Linked DNA regions of Homo sapiens. The protein of the gene in region 3 interacts with the protein of the main gene of each other region in a pairwise test. Each region holds a gene or a part of one and is shown on either strand. Other genes may lie near its edges.

Evidence for each region.
Region 1: the proteins of PRC1 (region 3) and SLAIN1 interact in a two-hybrid assay, tested with the Homo sapiens proteins (one large-scale study listed by BioGRID).
Region 2: the proteins of PRC1 (region 3) and NUDT16 interact in a two-hybrid assay, tested with the Homo sapiens proteins (one large-scale study listed by BioGRID).

The regions. Positions count from the first base shown.
Region 1 is NC_000013.11:77,746,102-77,749,751, reverse strand, and holds part of SLAIN1 (SLAIN motif-containing protein 1), read right to left. Parts: intron 3,239-3,650; coding exon 2,897-3,238; intron 1-2,896. UniProt on the Homo sapiens protein: Microtubule plus-end tracking protein that might be involved in the regulation of cytoplasmic microtubule dynamics, microtubule organization and microtubule elongation.
Region 2 is NC_000003.12:131,380,124-131,383,873, forward strand, and holds the start of NUDT16 (U8 snoRNA-decapping enzyme), read left to right. Parts: upstream 1-1,650; 5' UTR 1,651-1,681; coding exon 1,682-1,819; exon of another isoform or gene 1,820-1,922; coding exon 1,923-2,192; coding exon of another isoform or gene 2,193-2,468; exon of another isoform or gene 2,469-2,658; intron 2,659-3,038; coding exon 3,039-3,218; 3' UTR 3,219-3,220; coding exon of another isoform or gene 3,221-3,319; 3' UTR 3,320-3,750. UniProt on the Homo sapiens protein: RNA-binding and decapping enzyme that catalyzes the cleavage of the cap structure of snoRNAs and mRNAs in a metal-dependent manner. Part of the U8 snoRNP complex that is required for the accumulation of mature 5.8S and 28S rRNA.
Region 3 is NC_000015.10:90,977,525-90,981,174, reverse strand, and holds part of PRC1 (protein regulator of cytokinesis 1), read left to right. Parts: intron 1-141; coding exon 142-291; intron 292-785; coding exon 786-933; intron 934-1,880; coding exon 1,881-2,017; intron 2,018-3,650. UniProt on the Homo sapiens protein: Key regulator of cytokinesis that cross-links antiparrallel microtubules at an average distance of 35 nM. Essential for controlling the spatiotemporal formation of the midzone and successful cytokinesis.

The DNA.
Region 1 (3,650 bases), on a different chromosome or scaffold from region 3:
CATTTCCTGTCAAACAATGTGGAACGTTTTAATAACCACATATTCTTTAAAGTTCAGGGAACCAAAAGTAATGTTCTAGTTCTATCTTCACAAGAAATCAGCAGTTTAATCTTCAAGGGCTGAGATGCAGCAGGAAACTGGAAGAATAGACCAAGTAAAGAATTCAAATGAGCTTGCTCACATTAAAGAGGCAGCAAGACTCATCACTCTATGAACAAAGACTCAGGAATCTTTAGGACTAAAGGAGACACTCATTGTCCACCAAACAGCTAGATCTAGGCATCCAGGCAACACAGGCTCCAGGGGAGGTCCTCATGATAATAAGGACTACATCATGCCTCCAGTAACCCCTGCCATACCGTAGAATTATAAAAAAGTTGGTAAAGATTCTACAAGTTGAGTCATTTTGATATTTAGCAAGTTATTCCAGTTATGCTTCTTTTAATTCTATGAATCTCAGAAATATCCCAGAAAGTTTTATGAACCATCTCTTTAAATCTAGGCAGTGTAGGAACTACAAAAGCAGTAAATATTAATATACATTTCTAGTTTATTCTCAATTATTTTAAAATGAATCAACAGTTTACAATTATTTTCTATCTATATTATTTTGATAATTTAGAAAAATATTTAATAGATTAGCTTCAAAGTTACCATTCTTATTTCAGTTTTTTGCTCAATATTCTATAGTAACAAATGCAGGCTAGGACATCTGAATCATATGTTAATAAAAGTTTAAAAACAAAAGGGGAGAAGACAACCTTTATTTAGCACATCCACTCCAGGCTACATGCAATGTAACATTCATTATTTCATTTATTCCTTATAATATATTTAGGTGGAGAAAATGTGTACCAGATGGTTTGGTGTGAAATTATACCTAAGTTTCCTAAGAGACAGATATCATCTTGTCCACATTTTAGTTAGGGAAACCGAACCTTAGACAGTTGAGAAACACAGGATCTACTGGACTTCAGAGCCTCTGCTCTCAACCATTAAGCTAATTAGTCAGAAGTCATATCCAGAAGATTGCCTTTGTATTCCATTTTTCTTGTATTGTGAAAACTAGACATTTTAGGCAAAATAAAACTACCATAAAGGGACCTAAACTGTGATATGTCTCCACTTTCCTGTGAAGAGTATCCCAGCACAGGATTCACAGAAACCTAATCCTTTTCAAACGGTGTTTGATGGAAGTGAATACCACTTTTCTGAGGTGCAACAAACAGCTAAGCGGAGAAAAATGATCCCATTGACAATATCAATCAAGATGCAGAGCTAGCATCTGCTTGGCAACTTGACTACGATGTTCTAAAACACTTTAAGTAAAAAAAAAAAAAAAAAAAAAAAAAAGCTTTAGAGAAATAACTCTAGGTGCCCTCTCAATTTTAATAAGATGTTATGACTTCCACTAAGCACATGGAATACATTGTCTTTCTGATCTATGAGCTTTAATATGTTAGTCATGATGACATTTTTTAGCCACCACTCCTTTAAACTTGAAATCTCAAGGTAGTAAGAGAAATTACAAATACAAAATTTTAAATATTTCCAAATGATCTCTTAATTAGCATCAGCATGAATGATACCAGTATAAAGGAAGAAAGGGTAAAAACTAAATACAGGGTTATGGCTGATCACTAATACAAAATTTATATTTGGCCTATAAATATTTTTAAAGACCATTTGATCACATCTGGACCCAGCTTTGAGAAATAGTGCTATATAATAATTAAGAACTGTAATTGTATAATTATAAATTTTTTTATTGGTTTGTTTCTCCATAATATATAGAATTTATGTGTGAGGGTTCAGGTGATCATTAGTACAAAAACACAACAGGCTTAGAATATTACATGATTGCTTCTCCCATAGTTCTTAGAAGTCAGAGTCCAACTTCTGCAAGTGTGGAAGAAAGATAAATGATGAAGAGATAGAATAAACGAATGACACAGACAGCAACCCACCATGTTGACAAGACAGATCAATTTCCCATTACCCTGTCAAATGCTAATGGAAAGCAACCTCCATGTTCCTGCTGCTACACAGATCTTAATTCTAGATGTCAGGAGATCAGAGGGAAAGACACATCCCAAACTTGCCTAGATCTGGCTGTGTAAGAGCAGCATCCTCTGCAAGCATCATCATTCATGCTTACAACCTCACTCTGTGCTAGGAACAGACAGTAAGAGACTGAAGGCTGTGGACAAGGTAAGGAATGACAACTCACAGACTTTGCCTCCATGGGCTTGACCACAAACTTCTCAGCTTGTACAACCCTGCCTCTGCCACAGGCACCAGCAACAATGCAGAGATGCCGCACATTTATAACTCATTCCGAGCCAGCTATGTCATGAAGGTTTTCTTGAGGCTGTGCGTTTATAAATCTGGGACACGTAATCAGAAGCCAGTCAATTAGAGACGCAAATTTAGACCAAACTGAGAAGGTCTGGAGGATGATTTTTAATCTGAGAAACATTGACCAATTATCTATATTTCTCTTAAAACCATTTCTTGGCCGGGTATGGTGGCTGTCATCCCAGCACTTTGGGAGGCTAAGGCGGGCAGATTACCTGAGGTTAGTGGTTCAAGACCAGCCTGGTCAACAGGGTGAAACCCCATCTCTACTAAAAATAAAAAATAAAAAATAAAAAATAAATTAGCCAGGCATAATGACACATGCCTGTACCCCGGCTACTTGGAAGGCTGAGGCAGGAGAATCGTTTGAACCTAGGAGGTGGAGGTTGCAGTGAGCTGAGATCGTGCCACTGCACTCCAACCTAGGAGACAGAGACAGATTCTGTCTCAAAAACAAAAACAAAAACACAAAAACCATTTCTTGACCACATATAAAAAAATTAAAGCATATCAAATACCAAAAAAGCATACAACCTACCTCCATTGGTCCTATTTGGTTGCTGATCTGGAGTTTGGGCTTGAGGTGAATAATACTGTTGCTGCTGGTAATTATTTGAAGGAAAATACTGGGAACTGGGGCTCCTCCTACACTCCCGAATGCTGGAGAAAGTCTGTGAATGGGGAATTCCTCTTTGGAAAGGGGAACATCTTGGAAGACGAGGCTGAGGTGGTGGCAAATGATCAAATTCCTCTTCATCCTCCAGACTGTATTGGTCATATTCTTGATCACTACATGTCCCTTTTTTTCCTGAACTCAATGACACACTGGAACTATGTCTTGATACAGATGCTGAAGTAGAAGCATAATCTTGCCTGAGACCTATAAAATAACAAATAGTACTCTAATGTATTTTGATCTAGCTAACATTTAGTTATAATTAACCAAGTATTAGATGAAAAATTGTGCCAAATAAATTACTCACAGAGACTTATTATCTTGTTCTCAAGTTTACTAAATTGACAAGTTTACCAAGACAATAATCACATTTACCTATGAAACAGATATCTAATATTGGACAATTCTGTTTTGCAAAAAGATTGCCCCAATTCCAGTGAGGATTATATATACCTGCCACAGCTCATTCGTTAATATCTATCAATTTCCCCTTTTCAAATCAAGAGATATTTTAGAAGGGGAACTTAGGAAGAAATATTCATCTCATTATGAATAGTTTGCTATGAGTTAAAACAACTAAAATCTTCAAATCTCTGCCCAAGTAGGAAGTCATTCT
Region 2 (3,750 bases), on a different chromosome or scaffold from region 3:
TCCAACACTTGGGTCTTTATTTATTATTATTATTTTTTGTAGAGACGGGGTCTCGCTATGTTGCCCAGACTGGTCTCAAATTCATGACCTTGAATGATCCTCTCACCTCGCCTCTCACAGTGCTGGGATTATAGGTATGTGCCCAGCCCTGGCTCCTCAACGTAAGACATAGCACTGTGCCCCAACCCTCAACTCCAAGAATGGCTACATTTACTTTCTGCCTGGCACTGTTCTAAGTGCCTAACATATCTCAACATCCCTAATAGGTTGGTATCATCTCCACTTAACAGATGAGCTGCTGGGATCTGAGAGAGTTAAGTGACTTGTTAAGGTCACAAACCTGTTTCTGGGTGGGTCCGGACTCTTTCCCACCATATGCCGTCACTTACAGGCTGTGAGTTTATGCCCAGCCCCCCTCAAGGAGCTGCCTCCTGCTTTCTATTGCATAATCAATATCGACACCTGGTGTAGGGGCGCTCTGCAGGGTGGGGAAGGCCTGGCCTGGAGTGAGGGATCCTGCATCTCAGCATCAGGCCCTGAGTAGGCCTCTGCCCTTGTGGTAGGGTAACCCACCCTCCTTCATAGCTCAGAGGTCTGAGGGGGTTTGAGGGAAAGACTAGAAAGCCTAGGAGGCTTCTTCTATCTCTCACCCCTCCTCACTCCCAGTCCTGTGCCACAGGATTTCACTCACAGCTCCTTCCACCCCCACCCTTCCCCTGAAAATCTCACTGCCCTGTGACTTCTCTATGTGCCACTCCCTGTGCGTCAGACCCCCACGATCAGCTGCCCACTGCCTATGGCCACCCCAATTCCTTAGAACTACACTTATCACTGCTCACCCTTCTCCTACTCTCCCCCTCTCAGAAAATGACACCACATCCAGGAAACTCGGAACCACCACTAGCCCAGCGCTCCCTCTTCCCCATTCACTCAGTCACCAAGTCCCCTCAATTTCACCACTCAAGATAGTTGTCAGACCATGGCGCCTGTCCATCTCCATTTCCCTAGGATAGGCCTTGGTGTCTGAGGCCAACCCTGCCTCATTTCCTCCTAACCCCCACCCAGGCCTTGTGCTTTGTGTACCACCACACCCAACCAAAGGTAGTTATTACTTCTTTGGCTCCCAGCACTCAACTGAGCGCCCCAGCTCTTCCTCACCTGCCGGGACACTCCAGCTGACTCCAGATTGCGACGCAGGCGTTTACGTACCAGCCTTTCTCCAGGTTCAGGGCGCTGCCACATCTTCAGCCCCGACCCGCCGCAAGTCTCATTTCCTCCTAACCCCAACCCAGGCCTTGTGCTTTGTGTACCACCGAACCCAACCAAAGCTAGTTCCCTGACTTGCTCTTTTGGCTCCCAGGAGCCTTTAGGTACCGGCCTTGCGCCAGGTTTAGGGCGCGGCCACACCTCTAGCCCCGCCCCACCGCAGGCCCAACCCAGAGGCTGCTTTCGGTTACCCTAGGGTTCCTGGGCCCTGGACTTCAACCCGGTCTGCAAGCCCCGCCCTGATTAGCTGCCTCCCGCACCGGTCGCGGCGCCCCGCCCCCAGGCGCCTAGGTTCCTCCCCTTATCCCTGCAGGGATTGGGCCTTGCAGCACCGCCCAGGCTCGGATTGGTCCGAGGTGAGACCCGCCCCTCTGCCCATTGGGCCTTCGGGACAGCAGAGGAGCAGTGTCCGGCCATGGCCGGAGCCCGCAGGCTGGAGCTAGGCGAGGCCCTGGCGCTGGGGTCGGGCTGGCGTCATGCGTGCCACGCTCTCCTCTACGCGCCGGACCCTGGGATGCTCTTCGGCCGCATCCCGCTGCGCTACGCCATACTGGTGAGAAGGGGGCGCGCCCGGCCACTTTCTGCCTGAGCCCCGCACCCTCTCTGGTGGTCTCCTCTGGGGCGCCCCTGCCAATCCCCGCTTCCCCCTCCCGCAGATGCAGATGCGCTTCGATGGACGCCTGGGCTTCCCCGGCGGATTCGTGGACACGCAGGACAGAAGCCTAGAGGACGGGCTGAACCGCGAGCTGCGCGAGGAGCTGGGCGAAGCGGCTGCCGCTTTCCGCGTGGAGCGCACTGACTACCGCAGCTCCCACGTCGGGTCAGGGCCACGCGTTGTGGCCCACTTCTATGCCAAGCGTCTGACGCTCGAGGAGCTGTTGGCTGTGGAGGCCGGCGCAACACGCGCCAAGGACCACGGGCTGGAGGTGGGACCAGCCTGGGACTCTGTCCCTTTCCCAATTTCCTCTTCTCCCAAAGCTTTCTCTCCCCCAAGAAAGCATCCCTGGAGAAAAGTCTTTGCCCCTCTGACCTTGCCCTCTCCCCAGCTTTCTTGGTGGAGTTGGGATCGTGATCATCTATACTCTGAATTAGTACTGCCAACCTGGGCTTTCTGTAAAGGTCTTTCCCACCCTTTACCAGGAGAGATCCTTTCTAGAACACACTCATCCATGTCTCTCTGCTGTTCCCTATTGACAGTGTGATAGATTATCACATTATCTAGGTGTGGCAACCTAGGTTTTATTCTTGGGGTTTGCTTTTCTTGTGTAGGAGATGTGGCCCTGATATTTCAGGCAGGGCTAGTAGATAGATTATGTATGAAGGTGGTTCTCAAAATTTGGCAGGTAGCAGAATCATCGGGGCGTCTTATTAAAATAGCGATTTCTCTCAGCATTCCTGCATTGGTGGTGGGGCGGGGGGAGAGGAAACCTGAGAATTTGTAGTTTTCAAAAGTTCCCAAATAATGCTGATGCAAATAATCTGAGGACCACATTTTGACAACCACTGGTGAAAGGGTATGAATACATCTTTGAGGCAGTAGCCACTAGAGGTTTAGAAGCAGATGTGGGAAAGATTAATTGATAGAGCTAGATAATATGTTTTGGGTCATTTTCCTGCAGAAGGTTGGGCCACTAGGCTTTAGTGAGGTGTGAGCCTTGGGCCTGGTTCTGCTGGAGTATTAAGGGGTGAGGCCTGATCTGCTGGAGAAAGGATGGAGTTAAGGGAATGAGCCACCTGGGGCCCTAGTGTCTCCTGTCTCCTTCCTTTTACAGGTGCTGGGCCTGGTGCGAGTGCCCCTGTATACCCTGCGGGATGGTGTAGGAGGCCTGCCTACCTTCCTGGAGAATTCCTTTATTGGCTCTGCGCGGGAGCAGTTACTTGAAGCTCTCCAGGACTTGGGACTGCTGCAGTCTGGCTCTATTTCAGGCCTTAAGATTCCAGCTCATCACTAGAGGCAGCCCTCCATGGACCCATGAAAACTGAGATGAGGACCTTGGTACTAGGGAGGGAGGGAAGGACGTGGGAATGTTTTCTTATTGGATCTGAGAGATGATACATGATACCAGATGAAAAGAAGGAGAAGTGTGTACCATATGTTTTGAGCAGAGGACCCTCCAACTTATGGCATCAGGGGCAAAAAGTCACAGCTTATCCCAGGCACCCTGGCAGGTTCTCAGAGCCTGCCTCCTCCCTGTTTATATGCGTACAGCCTGGTAACCCCCAGGCATGCAAATATACAATCTGTAACAACACACAGCCTGACACCTTCCCCTGGTCATGTCCAGTTTAACCTTGAAGTGGCATTTGTCACACTACCCTGGTCCCTGATTGCAAGGAGCTTCTGAAGCAAGGGTGAATCCTTCCCACACTCCTCCATGGTTGCCCTCCAGGGTCTAGCCCAGCCTATTTGTTAGGGAGGATAGAGAAACAGAGCACCCCCTGTGCTTTCTGAAAATAGACTTGCTCTTGTCTTGAGTGGTGACC
Region 3 (3,650 bases):
TAGGAGGCATGAAAACATGCTACTTTGAACTCTCATGAAAGTGCCTCCTCCTCTACTCCAGACATTTCTTTGCGGGAGGCTAGAGGGCTAGCCTCTGTGCTGCTGCTTTGCCGTGAGTGACACTGGCTTTCTATGCTGTAGCTGGAAATGCAGAAATCACAAAATGAAGCAGTGTGTGAGGGGCTGCGTACTCAAATCCGAGAGCTCTGGGACAGGTTGCAAATACCTGAAGAAGAAAGAGAAGCTGTGGCCACCATTATGTCTGGGTCAAAGGCCAAGGTCCGGAAAGCGGTAAGAAACCCAGTGGGTACTGGGTCAGCAGTCTTCTCTTAGCACTTCTGTGTTAGTCATAAAGACTGTTGTTGATTTGGCCAGGCTCAGTGGTTCATGCCTCTAATCCCAGCACTTTGGGAGGCCGAGGCAGGTGAATCATTTGAGGTCAGGAGTTCGAGACCAGCCTGGACAACATGGCGAAACCCTGTATATACTAGCCAGGTGGTAGTGGCGTGCGCCTGTAATCCCAGCTACTTGGGAGGCTGAGACAGGAGAATCGCTTGAGCCTGGGAGGTGGAGGGTTGCAGTGAGCCAGAATCGCGCCACTGCACTCCTGTCTGGGCGAGAGAGTGAGACCCTGTCTCAAAAAAAAAAAAAAAAAAAAAAAAGTGTTGATTTATAATACCTTTGTGGCTTTGCATTATAATTTTACTTAAAAGGGGGGGATCTTTTGCAAACCTGAGTGAATATAAAACTATGGCAGCCACCCTTAACAAGTTTCTTTCTTTCAGCTGCAATTAGAAGTGGATCGGTTGGAAGAACTGAAAATGCAAAACATGAAGAAAGTGATTGAGGCAATTCGAGTGGAGCTGGTTCAGTACTGGGACCAGTGCTTTTATAGCCAGGAGCAGAGACAAGCTTTTGCCCCTTTCTGTGCTGGTTAGTACAAGAGTGAGGTCTTTGGTTTGTTTGTTTGGAGACAGGTCTTACTCTGTTGCCCAGCCTAGTCTCAAGTTCCTAGGCTCAAACAATCCTCCCAACTTGGCCTCCCAAAGTGTTGGGCCACCACACCCAGCCAAAAGTGGGGTCTTCATGTGGCCTGCTCACTAGTTTTTAAGACATCCAGACATTCAACAGGAAGTATATCCTTTTCTGAACAGATAAAGCCACCTTTTCAAGACATTTAGCATAATTGCCATTCCTGTATGAAAAAGCATTTGCAAATTTTATTGGGAAATATTGGTCTCTTGCTTTCTGAAGCAATATGTCACTGTAGCCTCTAGCTGTGAAGCTTAAGTTTTTATCAGGTGCTTACTTTTTGCCAGGTGCAGTGTCAAACCCTTAATATTATTTCACATCCTCATGTCAAGAGGTGAGGATACTAAAGCACATAAATGCTGAGTCATTTAACCCAGAGACATATAATGGTAAATGCCAGAGCCTACGTTTGAGCCAAAAGGAGCTTGACTCCTGGAGTCCAGTTGAATGCTAGTCTGAACTGCACTGAATATAAAGATGGAGCTACCCCAACTAAATTCAACAGATGTTTTTGCACATTTTCTGTGATCCACCCCTCTACTGGCTGGGCAAGACAGAAAAGCAGAATATGAAAGAAACCGAAGACAAGGCAAGAGATGATGCAGATTTTTGACAACATTATTTTAGTCTCTATCCTAGTCTCTTAGGCCCTACTCCCCCAGGCTGATTGTGACAAAGCTGGTTTTTATTAACCACTATATATCTATTACACACACACACACGCCTCTTCCTGTATCAGTTTACTATAAGGAAAGAATCTATTTCCATTTTAGGGAATCGGGGATTCGTAAAATTGGATACTAAATACTAGAGGAATTGTTTTAAACTACTGGGCCTATATTTTGCAGAGGACTACACAGAAAGTCTGCTCCAGCTCCACGATGCTGAGATTGTGCGGTTAAAAAACTACTATGAAGTTCACAAGGAACTCTTTGAAGGTGTCCAGAAGTGGGAAGAAACCTGGAGGCTTTTCTTAGAGTTTGAGGTATTGTCCTAGTTTTTGTGTTTTTAACTGTTAAGAAAGCATGCCATGTACGGAATCAATCCAGTTAGCTTTGTTCTTTGCCAGGCTTTTGATACCCCATCTTTATCATTAAGTCTCTCTGAATTTCTGCTGACCGCCTCTGTTTGATAAGCTTATCTACAGGGTCTTTTAAGAGAAAAGCCCAAAATTAATGGCTTAAATAAGGTAGGCATTTCTTGCATGAATGAGGTTCAGAGGTGGGCAGTGTGGGGCAGGCATGGCAGATCTGCACAGTGAGCAGGACCCCAGGCTTCTCCGGCTCAGGGCGCTCCCCCACCACTAAGGGTGGACCTCATCTTCAGGGCCAGGATGGCTGCTAGAGCTCCCACCCTGATGGCACTTTTTTTTTTTTTTTTTTTTTTTTTGAGGTGGAGTTTCGCTCTTGTTGCCCAGGCTGGAGTGCAATGGTGCGATCTTGGCTCACCACAACCTCCACCTCACAGGTTGAAGTGATTCTCCTACCTCAGCCTCCCAAGTAGCTGGGATTACAGGCATGCACCACCACACCCGGCTAATTTTTTGTATTTTTAGTAGAGATGGGGTTTCACCATGTTGGCCAGGCTGGTCTCAAACTCCTGACTTCAGCTGATCTGCCCACCTCGGCCTCCCACAGTGCTGGGATCACAGGCGTGAGCCACCACGCCTGGCCTGATGGCACATGTCATACAGTGTGGTGGAGGAAGGAACAAAGAAGGCATTGCCCCTCACTCCTTCAAGAGCTCTTCCCGGCTCTCTTCACAGCACCGTGGCTCACATGCTCTGTCACCTGCTGGTGAGGCTGGGTGAATTGCTGCCCCAGGTAAATTCTGGTTCTGTTAAACTAAGGAAGGAGAGAAGAATGGATGTTGGGGCAGGCAACTAACATTCTCTACCATTCCAACTTTTGCTATACTTAGAATATTGCATGGGTATTGATTCCTTTTCTTCTGATAGGCAACATGGTGGGTTCCTTCAGAGCATTTTAGAGCTCAGGGACTGTGGTAAAGCAAGTGAGGTGTGTAGGGCACAGATGGAAGGAGACCTTGTTCTCGGGTTCATGCTGGCCCTGTTAGAGCTCAGAGGGCCTTCAGAGAATCTGAATTCAACTCCTTCAAGTTTACAGGCAGCAAACTAGGACTCAGAAGTGGAGAGAACTATGGGATATCTTACAGCTGCTTAAGAACAGATGTCTTTGTCCTCAGTTATTCTTTACTTCTGGTTACAACAAGAAGAGTAAACATAAATAAGGAGGCCAGGTGTGTGTGGTGGCTCACGCCTGTAATCCCAGCACTTTGGAAGGCCGAGGCAGGCAGATCAGGAGGTCAAGAGATCGAGACCATCTTGGCTAACACAGTGAAACCCCGTCTCTACTAAAAAAATACAAAAAAATTAGCCGGGCATGGTGGCGGGCACTTGTAGTCCCAGCTACTCGGGAGGCTGAGGCAGGAGAATGGCGTGAACCCGGGAGGCAGAGCTTGCAGTGAGCCAAGATCGCACCACTGCACTCCAGCCTGGGCGACAGAGCGAGACTCTGTCTCAGAAAAAAAAAAAAAAAAAAAAAAACGTAAATAAGGAGCTAAGGCAGCAACCTTTGTTGACATGCCAATATTTAAGA